Homo sapiens: one gene and its partners. The protein of the gene in region 1 interacts with the protein of each later gene in a pairwise test. Each region holds a gene or a part of one and is shown in the gene's direction. Other genes may lie near its edges.

Evidence for each region.
Region 2: the proteins of SLC30A8 (region 1) and SYT2 interact in binary tests that used the Homo sapiens proteins (3 or more experiments, as listed by UniProt).
Region 3: the proteins of SLC30A8 (region 1) and CMTM7 interact in binary tests that used the Homo sapiens proteins (3 or more experiments, as listed by UniProt).

Annotation. Positions count from the first base shown.
Region 1 is NC_000008.11:117,169,495-117,174,421, forward strand, and holds part of SLC30A8 (proton-coupled zinc antiporter SLC30A8), read left to right. Parts: intron 1-1,539; coding exon 1,540-1,674; intron 1,675-3,041; coding exon 3,042-3,187; 3' UTR 3,188-4,927. UniProt on the Homo sapiens protein: Proton-coupled zinc ion antiporter mediating the entry of zinc into the lumen of pancreatic beta cell secretory granules, thereby regulating insulin secretion.
Region 2 is NC_000001.11:202,605,298-202,610,224, reverse strand, and holds part of SYT2 (synaptotagmin-2), read left to right. Parts: intron 1-1,284; exon of another isoform or gene 1,285-4,281; coding exon of another isoform or gene 4,282-4,452; coding exon 4,453-4,630; intron 4,631-4,927. UniProt on the Homo sapiens protein: Exhibits calcium-dependent phospholipid and inositol polyphosphate binding properties. May have a regulatory role in the membrane interactions during trafficking of synaptic vesicles at the active zone of the synapse.
Region 3 is NC_000003.12:32,439,583-32,444,509, forward strand, and holds part of CMTM7 (CKLF-like MARVEL transmembrane domain-containing protein 7), read left to right. Parts: intron 1-2,257; coding exon 2,258-2,431; intron 2,432-4,927.

The DNA of each region.
Region 1 (4,927 bases):
TAATCCTCTGGGAAGCTTTTAAACAATGCTTATGCTCAGGCCTCCCATACCCAGTGTTATTAGGCTGTTCTCACATTGCTATAAAGAAATACCTGAGACTGGATAATTTATAAAGAAAATAAGGTTAATTGGCTCATGGTTCTGCAGGCTGTACAGGAAGCATGGTGGCATTTGCTTCTGGGGAGGCCTCAAGAAGCTTCCAATAGCGGCAAAAGGCAAAGGGGGAGAAGGCACGTCACATGATGGGAATGGAGCAAGGGCAAGGGAGGTGCTACACACTTTTAAATGACCAAATCTTGCAAGAACTCACTCATCATCGCAAAGACAGCACCAAGCCATGAGGGATCTGGCACCATGACCCAAACACCTCCCACCAGGCCCCATTTCCAGCATTAGGGATTACAATTCAACATGAGACACTGGCAAGGATAAATATGCAAACTATATCACCCAGAGATTCTGATTTAATTGTCTGGGGTTGGGGCTGGCTTTGGTATTTTTAAAAACATGTAGTCAGACTAGAGAACCACTGCAAAGCAGAGCTGCTCAGTGGCTCATGAATGTTGGTGCAGTGGTTCTCAATCTTGGCTGCCTGATAGAATCACCAAATGAGCATTGATGTTGGGCCTTATCCACAGAGATTCTGATTTAATTGGTCTTGGGTGTAACTTAGTCATCAGGATTTCTAAAATCTCCTCTGGTAATACTAATGTGCATCCAAGGTTGAAAACCACTCTGAAAGACTCTAGATTTTGGAGCTTCATCCATAGAAATTTCCTTTTAGGTCTGGAATGGAGTCGTGGTACATTTATTTTTAATAAACACCCCAGGTGTTTGTGTTGTTTGTACATAACTGAAGTAGAGGCTAAAAAAGGGCTGTACTTAGACATCTCTTCTACAGCATCCTCCAATGTAGCTAAAATAATAGAAAACTTACAAACCGAATAAGATGGTATTATACAATGTTAGGATCCTCTATTAGCACAGTTCACTAAATGACCTGTTGAGTAACTAATCTTTGTACAACATTGCTGTTCATAATGATTAGATATTTTCTGAATTGCTCCTCAAAGATCTCTGTGATCTATGTGTTGTTCTTAACACCCTTATTTTACTACAAATGTGCTGAGGGTCAGAGAAGTTCTGGGATTTGGGTAAATTCACAATAGTTGTCGTCAGGATGCTAACCCATGATTATTTGATACCAAATTTCATGTTATTTCATTTTACTTTCCAGAGTGTATATAAAGATAGTTGGAAAAGGCACAGTTAGTTTAATAGTATACCATAAAAACTAAGGATAATTACCATTGTTGGTTATTGCATAGTAAATTCTGCAAGTATTCTGAGTGGGAAATTTTGATTGATGGTAAACCTTGAAGTAGTCAGGTAAATCTTATTTGTAAACATTTGAAGTAAGAAACCAGCAAAGGGATGAACACATTGAAATTTTGGTGAGGACTTTGCAGCTTGTTTAGGTAATTCAATGAGCTGTATCTAGTTGAATAACTACAGCCTCCATCTCTTCCCTTTTGTCAGGTGTGCCAAAGAGCCTGAATTACAGTGGTGTGAAAGAGCTTATTTTAGCAGTCGACGGGGTGCTGTCTGTGCACAGCCTGCACATCTGGTCTCTAACAATGAATCAAGTAATTCTCTCAGCTCATGTTGCTACAGGTCAGTGAGTTTTGTAAACACCCTGGAAAAAATTCAGTCCTTGTCCTGTAAAGTCAGTAATTTCCCTTCTTTTTGTAGAGCTGCCCTTATTGTCTGTTGCTTGTCAAAACATTATAAAGTGTTTTCTATTACCAAGGGCCTTTGAAACCAGCCCACTTATTGATGTTGTCATAGCAACAATGATACCCACGACATTCTTGGGGCTGACTGCAGAGGGCTGAGGACAGACAGAACAAAGGACTAAAATGCACCCGCCACTTCAAGGCCTTGGACTCTGAATATTCAACTTCATCTGTTTGGCTTGGTGCCCTATCAGTCAAATAATAGGAATGAATTAAAAACTTAATCTTAATTGAGTATCTCCTATGTATAAGATGTTTTTCCTGGCACTGAAAATAGGAAGATGAAAGAGACACCAGCCCCACTCTTAAATTTCTAACAAGCTAATGGATGTGCTAATAGGAATTATGGTGGGGTCCCACACTGTATGATTAGAAATTCTGTAGCCATGTGAGAAAATTCTTATAATACTAGGTTTATACTAAAATTACTTTTTCAAGAAGTTAATTTTGTCTCTGATATGTCCTAGAGCTGGGAGGATAGGCAGTGGGAGGGCATTTACTGCCTCAAGAGAAAGCTCAGGCCAAGGATAACACATTAGGCTGCTAAAAAATGACTCAAGGAGTTACTTAGGGGCAGGGGACAGGAACACTAGTGACAGTCATTTGAAAACTGTGCTTTCTCAGACATCGTCATCTTCTCGAAGGGGCTTAGGTCTGACTTGAGGGAATTTACAGCATTCACTATGCCAATATTTCACTGCAAATGGAAGAATCTAGTAAACACTCAGGTTGCTATGGAGGAGACTTTACAGCCTGCTGATAGCATTTGGGACAGGAAAAAAATGGCAGTGAGGGTTGCTGCTCTAAGAAAGGTCTGTGGGGAGCTCTAAACGCTTCCTGGTTCCTGTCACTATCCTTGATATAAATTCTGATTACATACAAAGCCTGCAACCCAGAGATCCCTGGGAGCTGGTGAGCAGGGCTGTATAAGAAATAATAGTTCTGTCTTGGCTTTTTCCAGGGCTTGTCTCCCCTTCCATAGTAAGCTCCTAGGAATGCCAGACTCCAGAGATAACAGTGGACAGAAAGAGTTCCCATAGCGACAGGGCACTTTGCTGCACTAGAGTTTCCCCTGCCTTGTCTGTGTGAATGTAGCTGATTATCAGAGCAAACGTGGCTTCCTCTGAGTGCCCTGCCTCTGCCCCACCCCAGCAGGTCAAAGACAAAGTACTTGAAGTTGGAGTCAGAGCAGTCGCCCATGCGTGTGCAATCAGTGCTAATCTCCCTGTGCTTCTTTATCAACAGCAGCCAGCCGGGACAGCCAAGTGGTTCGGAGAGAAATTGCTAAAGCCCTTAGCAAAAGCTTTACGATGCACTCACTCACCATTCAGATGGAATCTCCAGTTGACCAGGACCCCGACTGCCTTTTCTGTGAAGACCCCTGTGACTAGCTCAGTCACACCGTCAGTTTCCCAAATTTGACAGGCCACCTTCAAACATGCTGCTATGCAGTTTCTGCATCATAGAAAATAAGGAACCAAAGGAAGAAATTCATGTCATGGTGCAATGCACATTTTATCTATTTATTTAGTTCCATTCACCATGAAGGAAGAGGCACTGAGATCCATCAATCAATTGGATTATATACTGATCAGTAGCTGTGTTCAATTGCAGGAATGTGTATATAGATTATTCCTGAGTGGAGCCGAAGTAACAGCTGTTTGTAACTATCGGCAATACCAAATTCATCTCCCTTCCAATAATGCATCTTGAGAACACATAGGTAAATTTGAACTCAGGAAAGTCTTACTAGAAATCAGTGGAAGGGACAAATAGTCACAAAATTTTACCAAAACATTAGAAACAAAAAATAAGGAGAGCCAAGTCAGGAATAAAAGTGACTCTGTATGCTAACGCCACATTAGAACTTGGTTCTCTCACCAAGCTGTAATGTGATTTTTTTTTCTACTCTGAATTGGAAATATGTATGAATATACAGAGAAGTGCTTACAACTAATTTTTATTTACTTGTCACATTTTGGCAATAAATCCCTCTTATTTCTAAATTCTAACTTGTTTATTTCAAAACTTTATATAATCACTGTTCAAAAGGAAATATTTTCACCTACCAGAGTGCTTAAACACTGGCACCAGCCAAAGAATGTGGTTGTAGAGACCCAGAAGTCTTCAAGAACAGCCGACAAAAACATTCGAGTTGACCCCACCAAGTTGTTGCCACAGATAATTTAGATATTTACCTGCAAGAAGGAATAAAGCAGATGCAACCAATTCATTCAGTCCACGAGCATGATGTGAGCACTGCTTTGTGCTAGACATTGGGCTTAGCATTGAAACTATAAAGAGGAATCAGACGCAGCAAGTGCTTCTGTGTTCTGGTAGCAACTCAACACTATCTGTGGAGAGTAAACTGAAGATGTGCAGGCCAACATTCTGGAAATCCTATGTCAATGGGTTTGGTTTGGAACCTGGACTTCTGCATTTTTAAAAGTTACCCAGAGATGCTTCTAAAGATGAGCCATAGTCTAGAAGATTGTCAACCACAGGAGTTCATTGAGTGGGACAGCTAGACACATACATTGGCAGCTACAATAGTATCATGAATTGCAATGATGTAGTGGGGTATAAAAGGAAAGCGATGGATATTGCCGGATGGGCATGGCCAGTGATGTTTCACGTCATTGAGGTGACAGCTCTGCTGGACTTTGAATTACATATGGAGGCTCTCCAGGAAGACGAAGAAGAGAAGGACATTCTAGGCAAAAAGAAGACTAGGCACAAGGCACACTTATGTTTGTCTGTTAGCTTTTAGTTGAAAAAGCAAAATACATGATGCAAAGAAACCTCTCCACGCTGTGATTTTTAAAACTACATACTTTTTGCAACTTTATGGTTATGAGTATTGTAGAGAACAGGAGATAGGTCTTAGATGATTTTTATGTTGTTGTCAGACTCTAGCAAGGTACTAGAAACCTAGCAGGCATTAATAATTGTTGAGGCAATGACTCTGAGGCTATATCTGGGCCTTGTCATTATTTATCATTTATATTTGTATTTTTTTCTGAAATTTGAGGGCCAAGAAAACATTGACTTTGACTGAGGAGGTCACATCTGTGCCATCTCTGCAAATCAATCAGCACCACTGAAATAACTACTTAGCATTCTGCTGAGCT
Region 2 (4,927 bases), on another chromosome or scaffold:
GAGCCCTCAGAAATAATGCCGCATATCTACAACCATCTGATCTTTGACAAACCTGACAAAAACAAGAAATGGGGAAACGATTCCCTATTTAATAAATGGTGCTGGGAAAACTGGCTAGCCATATGTAGAAAGCTGAAACTGGATCCCTTCCTTACACCTTATACAAAAATTAATTCAAGATGGATTAAAGACTTAAATGTTAGACCTAAAACCATAAAAACCCTAGAAGAAAGCCTAGGCAATACCATTCAGGACACAGGCATGGGCAAGGACTTCACGTCTAAAACACCAAAAGCAATGGCAACAAAAGCCAAAATAGACAAATGGGATCCAATTAAACTAAAGAGCTTCTGCAGAGCAAAAGACACTACCATCAGAGTGAACAGGCAACCTACAGAATGGGAGAAAATTTTTGCAATCTACTCATCTGACAAAGGGCTAATATCCAGAATCTACAATGAACTCAAACAAATTTACAAGAAAAAAACAACCCCATCAAAAAGTGGGCAAAGGATATGAACAGACACTTCTCGAAAGAAGACAGTTATGCAGCCAAAAGACACATGAAAAAATGCTCATCATCACTGGCCATCAGAGAAACGCAAATCAAAACCACAATGAGATATCATCTCACACCAGTTAGAATGGCGATCATTAAAAAGTCAGGAAACAACAGGTGCTGGAGAGGATGTGGAGAAATAGGAACACTTTTACACTGTTGGTGGGACTGTACTAGTTCAACCATTGTGGAAGTCAGTGTGGCGATTCCTCAGGGGTCTAGAACTAGAAATACCATTTGATCCAGCAATCCCATTACTGGGTATATACCCAAAGGATTATAAGTCATGGATTATAAGTCAAGGATTATAAAGACACATGCACACGTATGTTCATTGCGGCACTATTCACAATAGCAAAGACTTGGAACCAACCCAAATGTCCAACAATGATAAGACTGGATTAAGAAAATGTGGCACACATACACCATGGAATACTATGCAGCCATAAAAAATGATGAGTTCATGTCCTTTGTAGGGACATGGATGAAGCTGGAAACCATCATTCTCAGCAAACTATCGCAAGGACAAAAAACCAAACACCGCATGTTCTCACTCATAGGTGGGAATTGAACAATGAGAACACATGGACACAGGAAGGGGAACATCACACTCTGGGGCCTGTTGTGGGGTGGGGGGAGGGTGGAGGGTTAGCATTAGGAGATATACCTAATGTTAAATGACGAGTTAATGGGTGCAGCACACCAACATGGCACATGTATACACATGTAACTAACCTGCACATTGTGCACATGTACCCTAAAATTTAAAGTATAATAAAAAAATAAGTGTTGTCTGGGATGTGGAAAACTTGGAACCCTCATACATTGCTGGTGGGAACATAAATTGGTGCTGGCACCTTAAAATGTCAAACATAGTTATGACCCAGCAATTCCATACCTATGTATATACCCAAGAGAAATGAAAACATATGTCCACGCAAAAACTTATGCATGGATGTTCATAGCAGCATTATTCATAATATCCCACAAGTGGGATATTATTAGCTATATTTAGTTATAAAATAGCCCAAAGTGGAAATAACCCAAATATTTATAAATTGATGAATGGATAAATATAAAATATGTTCTAGGCAAGGTGCGGTGGCTCATGCCTGTAATGCCAACATTTTGGAGGCTGAAGTGGGAGGATTGCTTGAGGCCAGGAGCTCGAGACCAGCCTGGGCAATATAGGGAGACCCCATATCTACAAAAAATTAAAAAATTAGCTTGGTGTGATGGCATGCACCTGTAATCCCAGCTACTCGGGAAGCTGAGGTGGGATGATCACTTGAGCCCTGGAGGTGGAGGCTGTAGTAAGTGGTTGCACCACTGCACTCCAGCTGGGTGACAGAGTGAGACCCTGTCTCAAAAAAAAAAAAAAATGTTTTCTATCTACACAATGGAATACTATGTGGCAATAAAAAGGGAATGAAATACTGATACATGCTACAACATAGATGAACCTTGAAAACATCATACTAAATGAAAGAAGCCAGTCACAAAGACCACATATTTTATAATTCCATTGATAGGAAATGTTTAGGATAGACAAATCTATAGAGTCAGAAAGTAGATTAGTGGTTGCTGGAGCTGGGAAGAGGATGGGAATGGAGAGTGACTGCTAATGGGACTGGGTTTCTTTTTGAGGTGGCAAAAATGTTCTAACTTAGGTTATGCTAATTGTTCCACTATTCTGTGAATACAATAAAATGCACTGAACTGTGTACTTTAAAGGGTGACATATGTGAATTACATCTCAATAAAGCTGTTTTTTAAAAAAAAAAGGTCACAGAGCCCTGAACAGTGTGGTAGAAGTGAGGGGAGATGGACATGGCGGAAGGCCCTGGACACACATCTTTATCCCTTTGTGTGGCTACTTGCAGTTCCCGCCAAACCGGACCCATCTCTTTGTCCCCAGAGGCGAAGTCCAGTGGACCTTGGTTTTTCACTTCAAGACCAGTTTTGGGGTCAAGGCTATTTCAACATGGCAGACAGTAAGAGTTAAATAAATGCTTGGTGAATGAACCTACATTGCATCAATGTACAGGCCACCAGAAGTACTTAAGGCTGGAGCAGTCTCCAGGGCTGGGGAGGGGATCTCAGCAGGTTTTTAAAGGAAGGGACAGAACTTAAGAGCTCCTAAAATGTTCCTTCAGAAGAACCCTGAGTCTAGAGGAGAGTTAACTCATACCTAACGTGCAGTGAGAAAAGTCTCACATTTTTTCTTTAAATTCTTGTGCTGTATGCATCCTACTCTATTATTTCCAGCTTGTTTTAATTTAAAAATACTGTAAATTGCCATTCAGTAAAACGGATGCCTCAGGGAGTTGTGCTGTTTATTCTTGCATCCTGGAATACCTGTGGGTGTATGCTGCTATGTTCCCTCAGAGGAGCCCAGTCAACAAATACCCAGAGTGCCCGCTGTGTGCTTGGCACAAGGGGTGCTGTTGCCAACACAGGATCTGCCCTCATGGGACTTTCAGTTGAGAAATAAGTGCATAGCCCTGAGGAGCAGAAAGAGCTTGGTGGAGAGGACAGAATTATGGGGGGCAGAGTTTGGAAGCTCGTAAGAACATTGCCTTAAATGAAGACCAACATTTATGCTCAGTGTTTTACTAGGAAAAAGTTGAAAACTGCCTAAATGTCTACCAGTGGAATGGCTAAAAAAATTATGGTGTTACCATATAGTAGGATATTATGTAGCTATTTAATAATAAAAAACAATAAAGGAAAAGGCTTATGATGAAATTTTATGTAAAAAATCTTGAAAAAAAACTATACATAGTATGGTCTCAACATGTAAAACATACTCAGAAAAAATACCAGCATAGAATGCCCCAAATGCTAGTTGACTTTGGAGGGTAGAATTATGGGGGGATTTCTCTCTCTCTCCCCAAATTTTCTACAGTAAGTCTGGGTTATGTTATTAATAAACATCACATCTTTGATGCGGGAAGGCTAATCTACAGCTGCATGTGGGGGCAGGGCTAGAGATGAACCTGGAGTAGGGGCCACAGAGTAGACCGGGGAGGAAGGGCTAGAGATGGAGATGTGGGTGCCGTCTTCCTACAGGAGAGGTCAAAACAAACCCTGAGTGGGCACTGAGGGAGCCCGTGAAGAAACCGCAGAGAGCTGAGGAGTCTCGCGGGGCAGGAGGAGGAATTGGAGTCAGGGATGAGGAGAGTCAAGTGTCATGGAGCTGGGCAGAGATTCTAGGCAGAGTAGTATCTAGAAATCCTTGGAAGTCAAGGAGAGAGGTTGAAAGAGGAGCCCTCAGTGTAAAACCTTGTCTCCTTCCTAGAGTGGTGAGGTTAGATTTCAATGAGATATAGGAGAGTGATTAGCTATACAGGCTCTGGAGTTGGGCAGACCAGTTCAAACCTCAGTTTCAGAACTTACAGCTAAGTGACCTTGGAAAAACTATCTAACCTCTCTGAACCTGTTTCCCCATCTGTTAAATGGAACCAATAAAAACCATTAGGTTATTTTTTGGATTAGATGAATAATGCATGGAAAGTGTTTTGCACAGTGCTTGGCACATATATGTACTATTTTTTTTAAGAGACAGAACCTTACTTAATCACCCATAGCTCATGTAACCTCAAACTCCTGGACTCAAGTGATCCTCTATCACTTCAGCCCCCACTATGCCTAACTAAAAAAAAAAAATTTCTAAAGATAGGGTCTTGCTATGCTGCTCAGGCTGACTGTGTACTAATTGGATGATGTCTATTATTATTGGTTTACTACAGTTGTTAATATTATGCAAAATATCTTTGATCTATAAAGAGCTTCTCCTGGTCCTTTGGGCAGGGCTTTCTCAGGGTAAGACGACCTCTGGATGCTCACCCTGCCCTCTTCACCTCTCGTCCCCAGCTGTTTCCTCTGCCACCATGAGGAACATTTTCAAGAGGAACCAGGAGCCTATTGTGGCTCCTGCCACCACCACCGCCACGATGCCCATTGGACCCGTGGACAACTCCACTGAGAGTGGGGGTGCTGGGGAGAGCCAGGAGGACATGTTTGCCAAACTGAAGGAGAAGTTATTCAATGAGATAAACAAGATTCCCTGTGAGTGTCTCTGGTGGCTGAGAGGGTGGGGCAAGGCTAGAGTCTGGGAGAGGTGAAGAAGGGTGGGGATACCACTGGGATGTGATTGGCTGGGCTCTTTCCTAATGCTTAGATTTCAGGCTGGGTTTTTGGAGAGCCCCTGCAGGAATCGGGGAGGGGGAAGTAGGATCTGCCACTAATGTGGCAAACAAGGGGGTTTATGTGCGTCAACTTCTCAGGGGAAGAAAAGTTCTTATAACTTAAAAAACTGTCTAAAGATGAAACCAAAAGGCGATGAAAAATTATGAAACAGAAGTC
Region 3 (4,927 bases), on another chromosome or scaffold:
TGCTGAGACCACAGGTGCATGCCACCACGCCCAGCTAGTTTTTGTATTTTTTGTAGAGACAGGGTCTTGCTTGTTGCCCAGGCTGGTCTCAAACTCCTGGCTTCAGGTGATCCACCCGCCTTGGCCTCCCAAAGTGCTGGGATTGCAGGCGTGAGCCTGGGATGCCAGGCATGCACCAGGCCCCATTTTGTGATTTAATTCTCATTGTAGACTGACATTTTCTATAGCAGAATTTTTCAACAGTAGTACTGTAGTTGAGGGGCCACATTTGGGGCTGGAGATGGGTAACTCTTTACTATGGGAGCTCTCCTATTTATTGCAGGGTGCTTAGCAGCACCCTGGGCCTCTACCCACTAAATGCCAGTAGCAACCCCCATCCCCGCAAATTGTGTAAACCAAAAATATATACACACATTGCCAAATGTCCCATAGGACACAAAATCATATACCCATACGCTAACACACCCATACACTAACACCACACGCATACACACACACACACACACACACACACACACACACACTTTAAGACTCGCTGCTCTGGCCAGGCGTGGTGGCTCACACCTGTAATCACAGCACTTTGGGGAGCTGGGGCAGGCAGATTACTTGAGTTCAGGAGTTTAAGACCAGTCTGGCCAACATGGTGGAACCCCCTCTCTACTAAAAATGCAAAAATTAGCTGGGCATGGTGGTGCATACCTGTAGTCCCAGCTACTCTGGAGGCTGAGGCAAGAGAATCGCTTGAATCTCGTAGGCAGAGTTGCAGTGAGCCAAGATCATGCTACTGCACTCCAGCCTGGGCAACAGAGTGAGACTCCATCTCAAAAAAAAAAGAATCACTCCTCCATAGGAGAGAGGCAGTGTATAAAATAATCTTTTTTCTAAATTGGTTGTGCATTTTAAATAGATTCCTGGCTGGAAACAATGGCTTACGTCCATAATCCCAGCACTTTGGGAGGCCAAGGCAGGGGGATTGCTTGAGCTCAGGAGTTTGAAACCAGCCTGGGCCACATGGCAAAACCCCGTCTCTACTACAAATATGAAAATTAGCCAGGCATGATGGCACACGCCTGTAATCCTAGCTACTTGAGAAGCTAAGGTGGGAGGATGACTTGAGCCCAGGAAGCAGAGGTTGCAGTGAGCTGAGATTGGTTCACTGCACTCCTGCCTGGGGAACAGAGCCAGACTCTATCTCAGAAAAACAAAAACTAAATAACTAAATAAATAAGTAGATTCTAAGATTTTACACACATTGAATCCCGTGTGTTACTGGTTTGTTCCCTACATGGAGTAGACAGGTTTTCTCTTTGGCCTTCACGGAAGCTCAGACTGTTACTCATTCTACTTTCTTGTACTCATGCATTGCTAATAGTTTTCATCTGGTTATTAATTCAGTAGCAGGCCGTTAAGCATGTTCACTCGTGCTGAGATATTTCTTAGTGAGCTCTCACCACATGCCCTGATGGTGAGCAGCCTCACCTCTTAAACAGGATTCCTGCATGGTTGAGAACCCGTCCACCTTTCTCGGCTTGTTATGATCAGAGCTTACACTTTTGGGAGGTAGAACTGCATCTGACATGGAGGAACATGGTCCTTAGAGTCAGACAGACCTGGATTCAAATCCCACTTCTGCTTACAAGCCAGATAGCCTTGGACTGATGATTGAACCTGCATGCCTCCGTTTCCCCTTATGAACATGGGGATGATTTTGTCTACCTGGCAGGGTTCTGCATGGCCTTAGCGAGATCACGTATGTCAGACATCAGTAAATGGTAACTTGTTATCTGTCAGTTGATAGCTGTAAGGTATGAATTACCATCTTTGTAGGTCAAAAACCATCAAATATTGGCAACTTCGTACAATTGGGCCTAATATGTAAACCCCAGGTCACCATCACGCTGTCCTCTTTGCTCTATGGATATCCAGCAGATGAAAGGGATGGTTCTGCTTTGTTATTTTCTTGTTTTCCTGCTTCTTCTGAGGGGGCTTCCCGCTGGCACAATCTAACAAACTTCAGAGAGGACGAAGTCAGTCTCTGCTGTCATCAGTGTTCACAGACAGTAGTTTCAAAGTGTGTACCACATGAAGTTGCAGTCTTCCAACCTTCCAGCCAGTGTGTATGGAAATAACCTGAATTGTATTAATAGCAGTTCTTCAATGTGGGCCTGCTGGGGGATGCTTGGTTGTTTTCCGTTGTTTGTTCCCTGGGTGCCCGTCTTGGGCAAGCATTTCTCTGATGTCTCTATTTATGTGGCAGGTCACCCTGCTGATTGCCTTCATCTGTGTGCGGAGCTCCCTGTGGACCAACTACAGCGCCTACAGCTACTTTGAAGTGGTCACCATTTGCGACTTGATAATGATCCTCGCCTTTTACCTGGTCCACCTCTTCCGCTTCTACCGCGTGCTCACCTGTATCAGCTGGCCCCTGTCGGTAAGAGAGTGGTCTGGCCCTGTCCTCCGCATGCACAAGTCAGGATGTTAGCTAGAGTACTGAGACCTGACAGAGTTTTTCCCGTCTGCCCATCTCACCTCTTTAACCATTCTTTGCTGCCTCTGCCCTGAATTTCCTATTGTTTGGTGGACATCTCTGCTTGATGTCCTGCTGGTTTTTAAAACTCACTTTCCAGCTACAAGAAGGCTGTGGCTGGCCGGGCGCGGTGGCTCACGCTGGTAATCCCAGCACTTTGGGAGGCTGAGGCGGGCGGATCACGAGGTCAGGAGTTCGAGACCACGGTGAAACCCCGTCTCTACTAAAAAATACAAAAAATCAGCCGGGCGTGGTGGCGGGTGCCTGTAGTCCCAGCTACTCAGAGAGGCTGAGGCAGGAGAATGGCGTGAACCCGGGAGGCGGAGCTTGCAGTGAGCCGAGATCGAGCCACTGCACTCCAGCCTGGGTGACAGAGCGAGACTCCTCTCAAAAAAAAAAAAAAAAAAAAAAAAAAAAAGAAGAAGGCTGTGGCTATTGCCCCATGCTTACTTTCTCAAGCAACAGAGAATGGCTGTGTGTGTATGAGTTGGGAAAAGGAACACGGAAGGAAATTGTAGGTGAAGATGATGGGTATTGATGCTGTTGTGAGGATTGAATGATAGGATTTTCTGGCTAAAAGAGACTAGTGGGGGCTGAGGAGACAGTCAGAAGTTGCCAGACTTTTTCTTCCCACTGTATTATTTTTTAAAGCTTCATTGAGATGCAGTTCATATGCCGTATTGTTCACCCATTTCAAGGGTACAATTCAATGGAGTTTAGTATATTTCCAGAGTTGTCCAACCATTACTACAGTCAACTTGAGAACATTTTCATCATTTCAGAAAGAAATTCCATACCTTTTAGCTGTCACCTCCCTACCACTCATCCCTCCAGTCCTAAGCAATCACTAATCTTCTGTCTCTAAAATTTTTCTACTCTGAACGTCTCATGTAAATGGAATTGTATATGTGGTCTTTTGTAACTGGCATCTTTCACTTAGCTGAATGTTTTCATGGTTCATCCATGTTGTAGCAGGTATCAGTATTTCATTCCTTTTTTTCTTTTTAGAGACAGGGTCTCACTCTGTCACCCAGGCTAGAGTGCAGTGACGTGATCGCGACTCACTGCAGCCTCAACCTCCCAGGCTCAGGTGATCTTCCCACCTCAGCCTCCCGAGTAGCTGAGACTACAGGTGCATGCCACCACACCTGGATAATTTTTGTGTTTTTTTTTTTACAGAGATGAGGTTTCATTGTGTTGCCCAGGCTGGTTTCAAACTCCTGGCCTTAAGCAATCCTCCCACTTTGGCCTCCCAAAGTGCTGGGATTACAGACATGAGCCACCATGCCAGCCTTTTTATAACCAAATTTTATTCCATTGTGTGGATAGACCAGACTGCATTTTGTTTTTCATTCATCTTCAGTGGACCTTTGGGTTGTTTTTACCTTTTGGCTATTATGAATAATGCTGCTATGAGCATTCATATACAAGTTTTTTGTGTGGACATATTTTCATTTTTCTCTGGTATGTATCTAGGAGGGGAATTACTGAGTCATATGGTCACTTTGTGTTTAATTGTTTGAGGAACCGCCAGACTGTATGCCAAAGTGGCTCACTGTTTTACATTCCCACCAGGAGTGTATGAAGGTTCCAGTTTCACAACATCTTTGCCAACACTTATTATCTGACTTTCTGATTCCAGCCATTCTAGTGAGTGTAAAGTGTTATTTCCTGTGGTTTTGATTTTCATTTCTCCAGTGACTAATGATGTTAATCATCTTTTCATGTGCTTTTGGCCATTTGTATATTTTCTTTGAAGAAATGTCTATTCGAGTCCTTTGCCTATTTTTTAATTAGGTTATTTGTCTTTTCATTATTGAGTTGTGAGAATTCCTTCTATAGTCTGGATAAAAGTCCCTTATCAGCTATATGACTTGAAAATATTTTCTCCCATTCTGATGTTTTTCACTTTTTTGATGGTGTCCTTTAAAGCACAAGTTTTTAATTTTGATAAATTTAGTTTATTTATTTTTTTTCTTTTTTAGCTCACGCTTTTCTTACATATAAGAAGCCATTTCCAAATTCAGATTGTGAAAATTTACTTCTATGTTTTCTTCCAAGAGTTTTATAGTTTTAGTTTATACATTTAGGTATTTGATCCATTTTGAGTTAATGTTTTTTGCATAGGGTGTGAGGTAAGGGTTCAATTTCATTCTATTGCATGTAGATATCCAATTATCCCAGCATCATATGTTGAAAAGACTATTCTTTCCCCCATTGAATGGCATTGGCACCCTTGTTGAAATCAGTTGACCATTAAATACATGGATTTAGTTCTGGACTCTCAATTCTATTCCATTGATCTATGTGTCTGTCGTTATGCCATTATCACACTATTTTGATTACTGTAGCCTTGTAGTAAGTTGTAAAACTAGCAAATATGCAGCCTCCCAATTATTC